3 linked regions of the Homo sapiens genome follow. The protein of the gene in region 2 interacts with the protein of the main gene of each other region in a pairwise test. Each region holds a gene or a part of one and is shown on either strand. Other genes may lie near its edges.

What was found.
Region 1: the proteins of INF2 (region 2) and UBE2R2 interact in a two-hybrid assay, tested with the Homo sapiens proteins (one large-scale study listed by BioGRID and IntAct).
Region 3: the proteins of INF2 (region 2) and BDKRB2 interact in a two-hybrid assay, tested with the Homo sapiens proteins (one large-scale study listed by BioGRID and IntAct).

The regions. Positions count from the first base shown.
Region 1 is NC_000009.12:33,918,009-33,920,899, forward strand, and holds the end of UBE2R2 (ubiquitin-conjugating enzyme E2 R2), read left to right. Parts: 3' UTR 1-2,391; downstream 2,392-2,891. UniProt on the Homo sapiens protein: E2 ubiquitin-conjugating enzyme that accepts ubiquitin from an E1 ubiquitin-activating protein, and catalyzes its covalent attachment to other proteins by an E3 ubiquitin-protein ligase complex.
Region 2 is NC_000014.9:104,699,591-104,703,241, forward strand, and holds part of INF2 (inverted formin-2), read left to right. Parts: intron 1-1,766; 5' UTR 1,767-1,775; coding exon 1,776-2,166; intron 2,167-3,514; coding exon 3,515-3,630; intron 3,631-3,651.
Region 3 is NC_000014.9:96,211,264-96,214,914, forward strand, and holds part of BDKRB2 (B2 bradykinin receptor), read left to right. Parts: intron 1-3,651. UniProt on the Homo sapiens protein: Receptor for bradykinin. It is associated with G proteins that activate a phosphatidylinositol-calcium second messenger system.

The sequences.
Region 1 (2,891 bases), on a different chromosome or scaffold from region 2:
TTTATTTTAAAGGCAGGGTTATTTCCCCCCAGGGAGTGGGGCAAGCGGGGAAGTTGGGATGAGTGCGTGTGGGAGCAAAGAGTTAAAAATCACTATGCTAAGTTTGGTTGATGCTACTGGGGGGAAAAAGTTGAAACTACTGGTGACCACTGTTGGGAGAGGAAACATCTGTTTTATAGATTTAGCATGGCCTTCCCATCAAAAATACACTCGTACCATGACGTTTTGTTTTTGTTTTTTAAGTAGCCACTTTTAATTACTCAGTATTAATCCTAGGTGCATGTGTTAAGATTTCGGTTTTCATCGAGCTGCTTATACTGATAGTGAAAAACTTGGATGTGTGTGAGACGAGTTACCGCCTTCTTCATTGGATGTGATCTGAACTTTTTTTCTCCTTTCAACATACTTAGGCTGTGGAGTGCAAGCAGAATTATGCATAGAAATTGTGGCAGGGCTGAGGGAGTTGACTGCAGGCAGTTTTTAGGCCAGATAAGGCTAGATCTTCCTGCAATGCACTTGCTGCAGCTTTGATTTTCCAGATCTCAATCGTGTTGCTTCAATCAATATTGAGATCCAGCAGCCTTCACCATCCAGGAGACTTCAGAACTTGAAGGTAATTTTTGGTTGTTATGGGGGTGCACCAGATCATAGGAGGGCATTATTTGGAGGAAACCGCTATAATGTAAAATCAGATTTCAGAAGGAAAATGCAGCAAGGACTGACTGTAGTCCTATTTCAGACCCCTGGGCACTAGTGTCAACTCCTCCTTTGGCTCGTAACTCAGAAAGAACCAAAGGGCAGATTAGGGACGGGGCAGGAGGGATCCTAGGATGGCCAGAGTAGGTGACGCTTACTTCCTTAGCTCCTCCTTCCATTCTGATCTCAGGGTTTTCACTCTTCAAACTCCCAAACACATGACTTCTTCCCAGCAGCCCTTCCCGGCCTCTAAAGTTTGGTCCCAGCAGCCCTTCCCAGCCTCTAAAGTTTGGTCTGGTATGAAATGGGACTGTTTAACAAGCAAGGCTCTTAGGGGACACTGTTGAGCCTGGTCCCAGAATCTGTGATCTCCACAGGGCCAGGGTTGCTACTTGCACCCAGAATCTAGTGATTTTAGTCAGATCCATGGAACAGAGCAGCTTCGTAATACATTGTCAAGTTACCTGATTACAAACTCTCATAGATGTTGGAACTACCTTTTTACTCCCCATACTTTGTAAGTAATGCTTCCAGATTAACCTGCAAATCTTGTGGAGCCAAAGCCTCTCACAGTGCTGATTTACCTCCCCCAAAATGCCCCCAAACCCCCATGCAAGTTTACAGCCAGTAGCTTGGTCTTATTCTCTTGGAGCCCTAAAATTAAGCCTTTCATTCCCCTTTGCTAAAGCATCTCACTCCCAGGGCAGCCCCAGCACCCTGGCATTGCGGGAGGTGCTCTGCTGCACAGCTGTTCCATCAGGCCCTATTGGCCTCTGTTAGACATTGACTCAGGGAGCCGGAGCGCCAAGTGGAGGTTGTACCTTTCAGCCCTTTGGGGTGTTAAAAGTGTCAAGGGCTGGGTTTGCCTCTGATGAGTACAATCAGTTCCAGAAGACTGGGTAAGTCTCTTGCTAGCAGGTGGACATTCTGGTATTTTAGACTGACTGAACGAAACCCAGAGGCTGGTTCCAGAGCTCTGTCCCTGAGAACACATCCCTGTGGAAAATACTTGAGTTTGTAATTTTTTTTCCCCCTTCTGGGAGTGGAGGTCTCAGGCTCAATCCGGAACCATGTACGTACAGTTTTGCTTATTATTTGATGTGACATGAACTCAAAATCCTGCATTTTTAGATTCCTTTTAGTTCTAATTGAGGCCTCACTAGATGCTCTTCAGTTCTGTGTATTTTGAGGCTGGGTGGAGAAGTATATGATTCTGCTGTTGATTCTTTCAGTCTTCCCCCCTTCTCCTTTTATCAATCATTCCAGAGTTATTTTCTATTAGTCAAACTTTTTTGTAGAACCTTCTTTCCCTTACCCTGGCAAATTGCTTCTTTACTTGCTGGTTTCCTTACGTTTGGGGCACATGTTGTAAGAAACTGATTGGAAGGGGAAATGTGCAGCTCTCCACTGGAAAGGAACTCTCCACCCCTCCCATCCTGATAAAACAAACAAGGTTTACATTTACAACTAAAAGGATTCAGATGCAATTTTCAACTATTCTGAAACCAGCAGGACACACCTGACTTTAATAGTTTTAGCTGAAATTGTAGATGTTTTGCTTCAGTTTAACTTATGAGAAAAGATTATCTGACGGATTTTGTGTTGACTTCCCCTTTAGTGGTTTATTTTGTCTTTTTCTGCCCATCTGTCTACTAATAAAATGTGAAATAAAATACCTGTATTGCTACTTCCCCATGAAATGACCCTCTTCTTTTTTTACCTTGTGTTAAAGAAAACTAAAAGGTGGTCTCATTATCACTGTTAAGTTTGCAGATTACGCTGGGGCTCAGCTGAAAAATTAGACAAAAACCAAAACTGGGGAATCTGCCTTTCTAACTAACTCACCTCCCTGGTGTATCCCCAGTCCCTTCAAGCTCCTTATAGACGTAGCCATTTGTTAAACTTGATTCTGAAAACGGGAGCTGATACAAGTAGGTCAGTGAAGGATTGAGGGGTGCTCTGCTGCTTTCCTTAGGCAAACATTTTCACTGTCATTTGTTTTCCTAACTTACTGCTGCTAATAGCAGGGATCAGGCAGATCACCCTATTTAATAAAAGTCCTAATTTTACCTGTAGACACTTACCTTTTTTCTAGGTAAGGTCCCAAGCTGTGGGTTAATAGGAGTATCGGTCCCATCTGATGACAGGACCATCGCTCTCAATTGTAGAGGCCAAAAGCAGAAAAAGTAGATTGT
Region 2 (3,651 bases):
GCATCTGGGTGAGTGGACGGCCACTGGGTGACCAAGAGGGCCGGGCCTGGGAGGGTGGCTTAAAACCACAGTGCACCGGGGGCTCCGGGCTCTCCGTTCTACAGTGCCCAGACCAGGACCCCCTGCAGGGAGGAGGGGCATCCCAAGGACAGCCTCTCAGGATGCTCCTGGCAGCCTGGTGCTGGAGGTGCAGAAGAAGAAACTGAGGCCCAGGCAGGATGAGTGACTGGGCCAAGGTCTGCTGGTGAGGGCCCGGGCTGGGGACATGCAGATCAGAACCCTGGCTTACACCTGTCAGGCTGCCTCCTGGAAGGAGCCCACTGGCCCCCTGGGGCAGTTGGACAGGTGGAGGGCTGAGGGGCGGTGCGGGGAGTAGGGGCTGGACTGCCGGAAACACCAGGCTTGGTCGTGGACCAGGCTGGGGAGTGGGCCTGAGACCTCAAGGGCAGGTGCTCCAGGACACTCTCCCAAGGCAGGAGGGGAGGAATAGAGCCTCCTGGGGAGGCAGGCGCTTGGGTGCTCGACCCCGCTCAGCTCCCGTGACCTCAAATGCCCTTCAGCCTGGGGTCCCCTGACTTACCGGGTTGGGCAGCACTTGAAGCAAAGCCATGTGGGACCTCCAGTCACAGCCCAGCCGTGCCCAGGTGTGGGACTGTGGGCACAGACCCAGCTTCTCTAGGACCCAGCCGCCTCCAGTTCCCCACCTGTTGTGGGAGGTATAAAGTGCCTGCCTTGGAGGTGGTGGGAAGCCGAGGGCCAGGGTGGAGAGTGCTGGGCCGGGGTGGAGGCTCAGAGCGTGTCCCTGCCAGGCCCGGCCCCCTAGCTCCCTCCCCGAGGCTCCACGCTGCTGTTCTCAGACGCTAAATATAAGATCTAAGCCATACATGGTTGCAGGAGGGCCTGGGATGCCCCTGACCTTCGAGGCCAGTTCCCAGGGTCTGTGGTTGGGGACAGCGGCTGGGGGGATGTGGTGGCGTGGAGCTGATGTCAGAGGTGCAACCCGCCTGTCCTGCTGTTCTGTTTTGGGGAAAGGCACGTGTTGGGGCTCTTCTGGGCTGGGCCTGTTACCTACCCGGGTGTTCCCAGGGCTGGAGTCAGACCTGTTGCGACTGAATCCTGGTAAAACCCTGAGTGCCAAGGGTTTCCGTCTTCCTGTTGGTGTGGGCCCCCTACCCACATGCAGACGGGCAGACTGAGGCCCAGGGGAGACCTGGGAGTCGCCCCTCCTCCCCAGCCACGCTGCTGACGCTGTGGGCACCCCAGGCATGCCTGAGGTTTGGAATCTCCCTGTCCATATTGTCCACTGGGGCGGGGGAAGTGCCCTGGGGTGAGATAAGGCAGCCTCAGATGCGCCGTTTTGTCGCATCATTACCGTGGGTAATGTTCCAGCCAGGGGAGCCTCCCGCTCCCCCGAGTCCTCCCCAAGCTCATCCGGTCCCGTCACTCTGCAGGGGCCGTGCTGGCCTCGTGCTGCAGGTTTCTGAGCCGGCTCCTCCCCTCCCAGCCCTGAGCCTCGGGGTCCTCATGCGCGCAGTAGGGCCCTTCCTGCCTGCCGCCTCGGTTGCTGAAATTCGGTCAGGGATGGGTACAGGGAAGCCTAAGATATAGTGGGGGACACAGTGCTACCCCTAACCCTCAGCATGGCACGTGAGCAGGAATTGCAGCAGAGAAACTGAGACCGAGGGAAGTGGCCCCGCCTGCGCTGGTGGCCAGGAGGACAGCCCCCATCCCCTCCCCGCTGACGGCTCCCTGCCCTCTGCCTGCAGCTCGGCAAGATGTCGGTGAAGGAGGGCGCACAGCGCAAGTGGGCAGCGCTGAAGGAGAAGCTGGGGCCACAGGATTCGGACCCCACGGAGGCCAACCTGGAGAGCGCGGACCCCGAGCTGTGCATCCGGCTGCTCCAGATGCCCTCTGTGGTCAACTACTCCGGCCTGCGCAAGCGCCTGGAGGGCAGCGACGGCGGCTGGATGGTGCAGTTCCTGGAGCAGAGCGGCCTGGACCTGCTGCTGGAGGCGCTGGCGCGGCTGTCGGGCCGCGGCGTTGCACGTATCTCCGACGCCCTGCTGCAGCTCACCTGCGTCAGCTGCGTGCGCGCCGTCATGAACTCGCGGCAGGGCATCGAGTACATCCTCAGCAACCAGGGCTACGTGCGCCAGCTCTCCCAGGGTGAGCCGCAGTGTGGGAGGGCCGCCCAGGCGGACGCTGGGGACCTGGTATGAGGCTTCAGGCCCAAAAGGCCCCGGGAGGCCTGGGGAACCACCAGGAGGAAGCGCAGCCAGGCAGGCAAGGAGGGCTTCCTGGAGGAGGACTGGCTTCCTGGGCTCAGGAAAAACATCCACATTCACTCCGAGTCTGAGGCTTCCAGGTCACCCCAGTCCCCGCACTGCTGCACCAGCGGTCCCCCTGTGCCCCTCTCTGTTGTGTGGCTCTGCCCCACCCTTCCTCCCCGTCCTGTGCTGGCTCCCACCCTCTGGGCTCTCTGCCCTCGTCCACACCTCGGCGGCAGGAGTCACTGAGTCAGAGATGCGAATCCACCCGAGTGGCTCCCTACATACACCTGCCTAGCTCCAAGCCCTTCAGCCTCAGCCCAGACAGAGCCCTTGAGGTCTGGCCCACACCTACTGATGGTGTCACCCTCCACCTCCCAGCGCCTTCCCTAGCGCCTCCCTCCCCGCCCTGTCCCCTACTCCAGCACCCAGGGGACTCGTTCCCGGCAGGCAGGCAGGCCCTTGGTCTCTGCCTCTGCTCGTGTTTTCTGCCTTTGCGTCCTCCAAGGTCCTGCGCCGCTAAGCCTTTAAGCCCCAGCTCACTTTCCTGTCCTCCAGGAAGTCTCCCCAGGCTGTGCCCAAAGTTAGTCCCGGTCCCTTGAGAGAAACCCTTGCTGTGCCACTCCATGGCTGCTGCCAGGTCCTACCGATGCTTGGGGACGAGCTAGGGTGGGCAGTGATGGGCGGGGCTGGGCCCATGGGGGCGGCAGTTACCTGTGCAGGCAAGCAAGCCAGAGGCGCCTCGTTTCTGTCGGACCCAGGGGACAGAGGCAGGTGTAGGGGCCAGCCATTCTCAGCCCGTCTCCCCAGCCTGGGCCTGGCAGGGCCCCTCTATGGAGTCTTTTGTGAATTGTTCTCAGCAGGGTCAGATGAGAGACACCCCCAGAACTTTCACAGCTCCAGATGGGGTGGGAGGCAGGGGTTCATAGGAATGAGGTTGTGTCTGCCATAAACACAGTAAGTGCTGCATTGGGAGAAAAGCTGGGCCCAGAGCCAGTGACAGGATGGGGCAGCTGCCTCCAAGCCCTTCCCTGCAGGGTCTGGCCCTGTGGTCCAGGAGCAGGGCCAGGACACCGAGGAGTGGGGCACCTCGTTGGGTCCCAGCCCACTGCTGTGGGCCACAGACAAGTGCCCGGCACCCCCTGGCGTCTGCCTGCCAGGCCCAGAGCCCCAGCCCTGAGCCCAGCTGCACAGGCATGGGAAGGGGTGCATTGGCCCTGCTGAGCCTGCCCACTCCACCCTGGCAGCCCTGGACACATCCAACGTGATGGTGAAGAAGCAGGTGTTTGAGCTACTGGCTGCCCTGTGCATCTACTCTCCCGAGGGCCACGTGCTGACCCTGGACGCCCTGGACCACTACAAGGTGGGCGGCAGGGCCTGGGCC
Region 3 (3,651 bases), 8.5 Mb from region 2:
CCTGACCACAGAGGGAGGCTCTCTGGGGTTCTCCCGGAGCCTCGGAGATTGCACCTTGTGCATGCGCTGCTGCACCTGGGGTACATCACCCCCACTCTGGAGCCCACTGGCCGGTTAGCAAAGTGAGAGGTGAGAGAAGGACCTCTTGGTCTTCTTTGAACAGAAAGATCCAGAAAGCAATGGCTAGAACACAAGAACAGGTCAGGGGAGGCAGGAGAGGGTCTGCACACCTGCTACAGGTGTGCTCACACGTGGGCCAGGGCCTGCAGATGAGGGATCTGTGCTGATCATTTGTGATAGCCAAAAGTAGTGAAAACCTGGGGGGACTCCTCAAATGAACTGTAGCACATTGGGGAGATGGACTCTGTGAAGATGATTCCTCTCTCCACCCACTTCCCTTCTCCCTCCTCCTCCCGCTCCTCCTTTTTCGGAAGCCAGGCACAGGGATTGAATCCCACCCCATTCCTCCCCTGCTGTGTGACCTAGGGCAAGAGATGTGGTCTCTGGGATCCTTCGGTTCCTTCAGCTATAAATAGTAGTAGAATTGCAAACTACCTACGAAAACTGGGAACTCCCTGCGAAGGCCGGTGCATTACAGGGCAGTCCTACTCTGAAATACTGTGAGGCTATTGAAAAGCAAGGTGGGTCGACAGATTGTTAAATGCAAAGAGGTGAGGACACAGCCGGCGGTGCATTTAGGGTGCTTCTGCAGGCGTCCTTATACATGGATATGTGCACATCTGCTCCTGAAAGCTCAGAAGATGTCTGGAAAGCAACAGGAGACACCAGTGAGCCTGGCTGTCTCTTGAGGCAACAGGCAGGGACAGAATCTGGAGGGAGACCTACCCCTCACTGTATTCTTTTTCGCACTCTGAAATGTTACCATGAGGATGCATATCTCTTTGCAAAAATTTAAATATAAAAAGCAAAACAAACTTGAATAGAAATAAACTACTTGAAAATTTTAGAAAACACTGTTACATCAAAGAGACAGATCATCAAAACTGAAATTATAGATATTTGAGAAACAACTAACTATAAGAACACTGCTTACCAAACTTATGGGATGCAGCCAAAGCCATAGTCAGGGGATGAGTCATGCCTTTAAATTTTTAAATTATTAAACCAAAAAGATTGCAAAAAAAAACTGTTCAATTCAATAAACTAGATAATAATGATCCAAAAAAGTAGAAGAAAGAAAAGAATTACAAAAACAAAATGACAAGTTAGAAAGGTAAAAAGCATTAATGTCAGTAGGCCATCTAAGGATGGCTCTTTGAAGAGCAGACAGGAGAAGGGCAATCCCAGGAAGTGCTATGTGCTATGCAGAGAATTAGAATAAGTTGATGGCAGAGATCAGTGGGTGGCGGCTCACTTGGGTGGTAAAGAGTAGCCTGCAGCCAAAGTTGGGCACAGCAGTGCAGTCTTCACTGGGGGAATGCCTGGGAAACAAGATTTGCCTGGGTAGGAGTTTCCATCAGCACCCCCAGAAAGGTCTCCTTTCTACCCTGGCCCCCAGTTCTTTGATGGGTTTTGCTGATGCTCCTGTGTCTCTGAACAGCAGGCGCCTCACCTATAGAAAGGTAGGATAGCAGGAGTTAACGCCCCCTCCCCCATTCCATGGCCCCTGCCTGGGATTCTACCATCTCTGCTTCATATGCTTTATAGGAGTTCGGTCTGAGCCCACAACCCAAACAGGCTCACAGATGTGCTAGCTATTTCGCCACCAGTATTTTTTTAATAGTCAATATTTAGAAATTGGCACCAACTGGCCCGATTGTTCAACAGTCCTGGGTTAGGTTACTAGGCCAATTACTTGCTGAGTAACCCAGGACAGGTCACTGACCTCTCCGAACCTCTCCTTTCTCACCTGTGTGATAAAGACTACTGCTGTGCCAACACAATAGGACTGTGTATGAAAGTACCCAGACTGTGCCTAGACTCAGGAAGCTGGTTTATTCCTTCCTCCCCTAACCACTTACTGAGAGACTGCTCAGGGCTCCCCTCAGCTCAGAGATCTTTCCCCACAAGGAGCTGAGAGCCTGGTGGGAGAGACAGGCAGAGACCCAAGTGGTTCTAACACAGCTCTCTGAATCTGTAACCCCAAGTCCCATCCCCAGAGGACACTGGGACAGTCACACTGATGGTTTGTCCCTAAGCCTCCAGCATCAGGAGCCATGTGGCAGGATCTCCACTCTTCTTCTTCCTGGGCCTCTGTCTGGACCGACCCAAACACACACACACACACACACACACACACACACACACACGTGTACACACACAAGTTGCTTCTTTGCTGCCTGCATGTCCTCACACCAGCTTATGACACACCTACAATGTTTGATGTGTCATTGTGGGCAGGTTTCAAGTTGGAGGACCTAGACCTAGGTAAAGTAGAGGGTCTCCCTAAGTAAGGGAGGGTGCACAGTGGAGAGAAAGGGTAGGGGAGACTGCCCAGTGCCATTGACATATGCCTGAGCCCCAGGGCACCCTTGGCCCCCCAAAACAATCACAAGTATCCCCCCCGACAAACCTGCCAAGTAGGCATTGTGTCTCCACTTGACAGTTGAGGAAATGGTCCCTAGAGGGGAGACAGAGCTAGCTAGAGACTGGGCTGGCCCTGGAGCCTGGCCTGGGTCTTCCCATCGCATCCTGCCTCCCTACATAAGCAAAGGTCGAGAGGTGGGAACTCCCAAAGATGCTCAGGCAGGGCCAGGGGAGACCAGTGGGGCAGGGAGGGGACAGGAGGGGAAGGAGGAGCTGGGGCTGGAGAGATGGGTAGGAGCATGAGTCCCTTGCCTGGGCCTCCCCATGGTGGGCGGTGATCCAAAAGCCCCAGTCAGAGCCCTCTGCCCTGTGACGGGGGCACCCTGCATGTCCCCTCACTCCCTGCCCTCCAGTCCCCGCCAGTCCTCATGTTTTCCATGAGGATGAGTACAGCCGCAGGGACTTTCCCTGCAAGTGGTCTGGGCCATATCTTCCGGGAGTCTGTTTGGACTGTGGTGTCTGTGGCTGAGGGGGTGGAGGTGAGGGCACCCAGGCCCATCACTTGACAGAACAATCTGTGGATTTGGGGGAAAGAGGAGGCGACTGTCATTCCTGAGAGAGGACGGGAACCAACAGGAAGGATTCCTGAGTGCCAGGGATGACCACACTGGATCCTCACAACAGCCCTCCTGCCGGGGACAATGCTCCTTATCCCACAAGCGGGGACCTGGGCTCTGACAGGAGGCCACACACTTACAGTCCCTCCCTTAGTGACCGGCAGAGCTGGGATTTGAACACCCCTGGTGAGACTCCCTCGTCCAGACCCCTTCGTTGTACAGCAGGTTTGCCTCACATGCCAGAGTCGGGGTGGCCTCAGGGCACAGCCAGGAGATGTCCCCAAATCCCGAAATGTGGTTTGAGTCCCAGTCCCTCATCTCTCCAGCCTCCAAGCCCTCACCTATGCAATGGTGCCTTGCCCGGCTCACAGGTTATGAAAAGGGGTGAGACGAGACAGTGTCCCCTAAATACATCTGACAGCACTTTTGAATGGAAAAGAGAAAAAGAAAATACTATAAGCATCCAGATTGACTGGAGGTTGGGGAGTTGGTGGGGGCGGGGACAGGCAATCCATAAAGCAAGAAAAATCAGGCTGGGTTCAGGCTT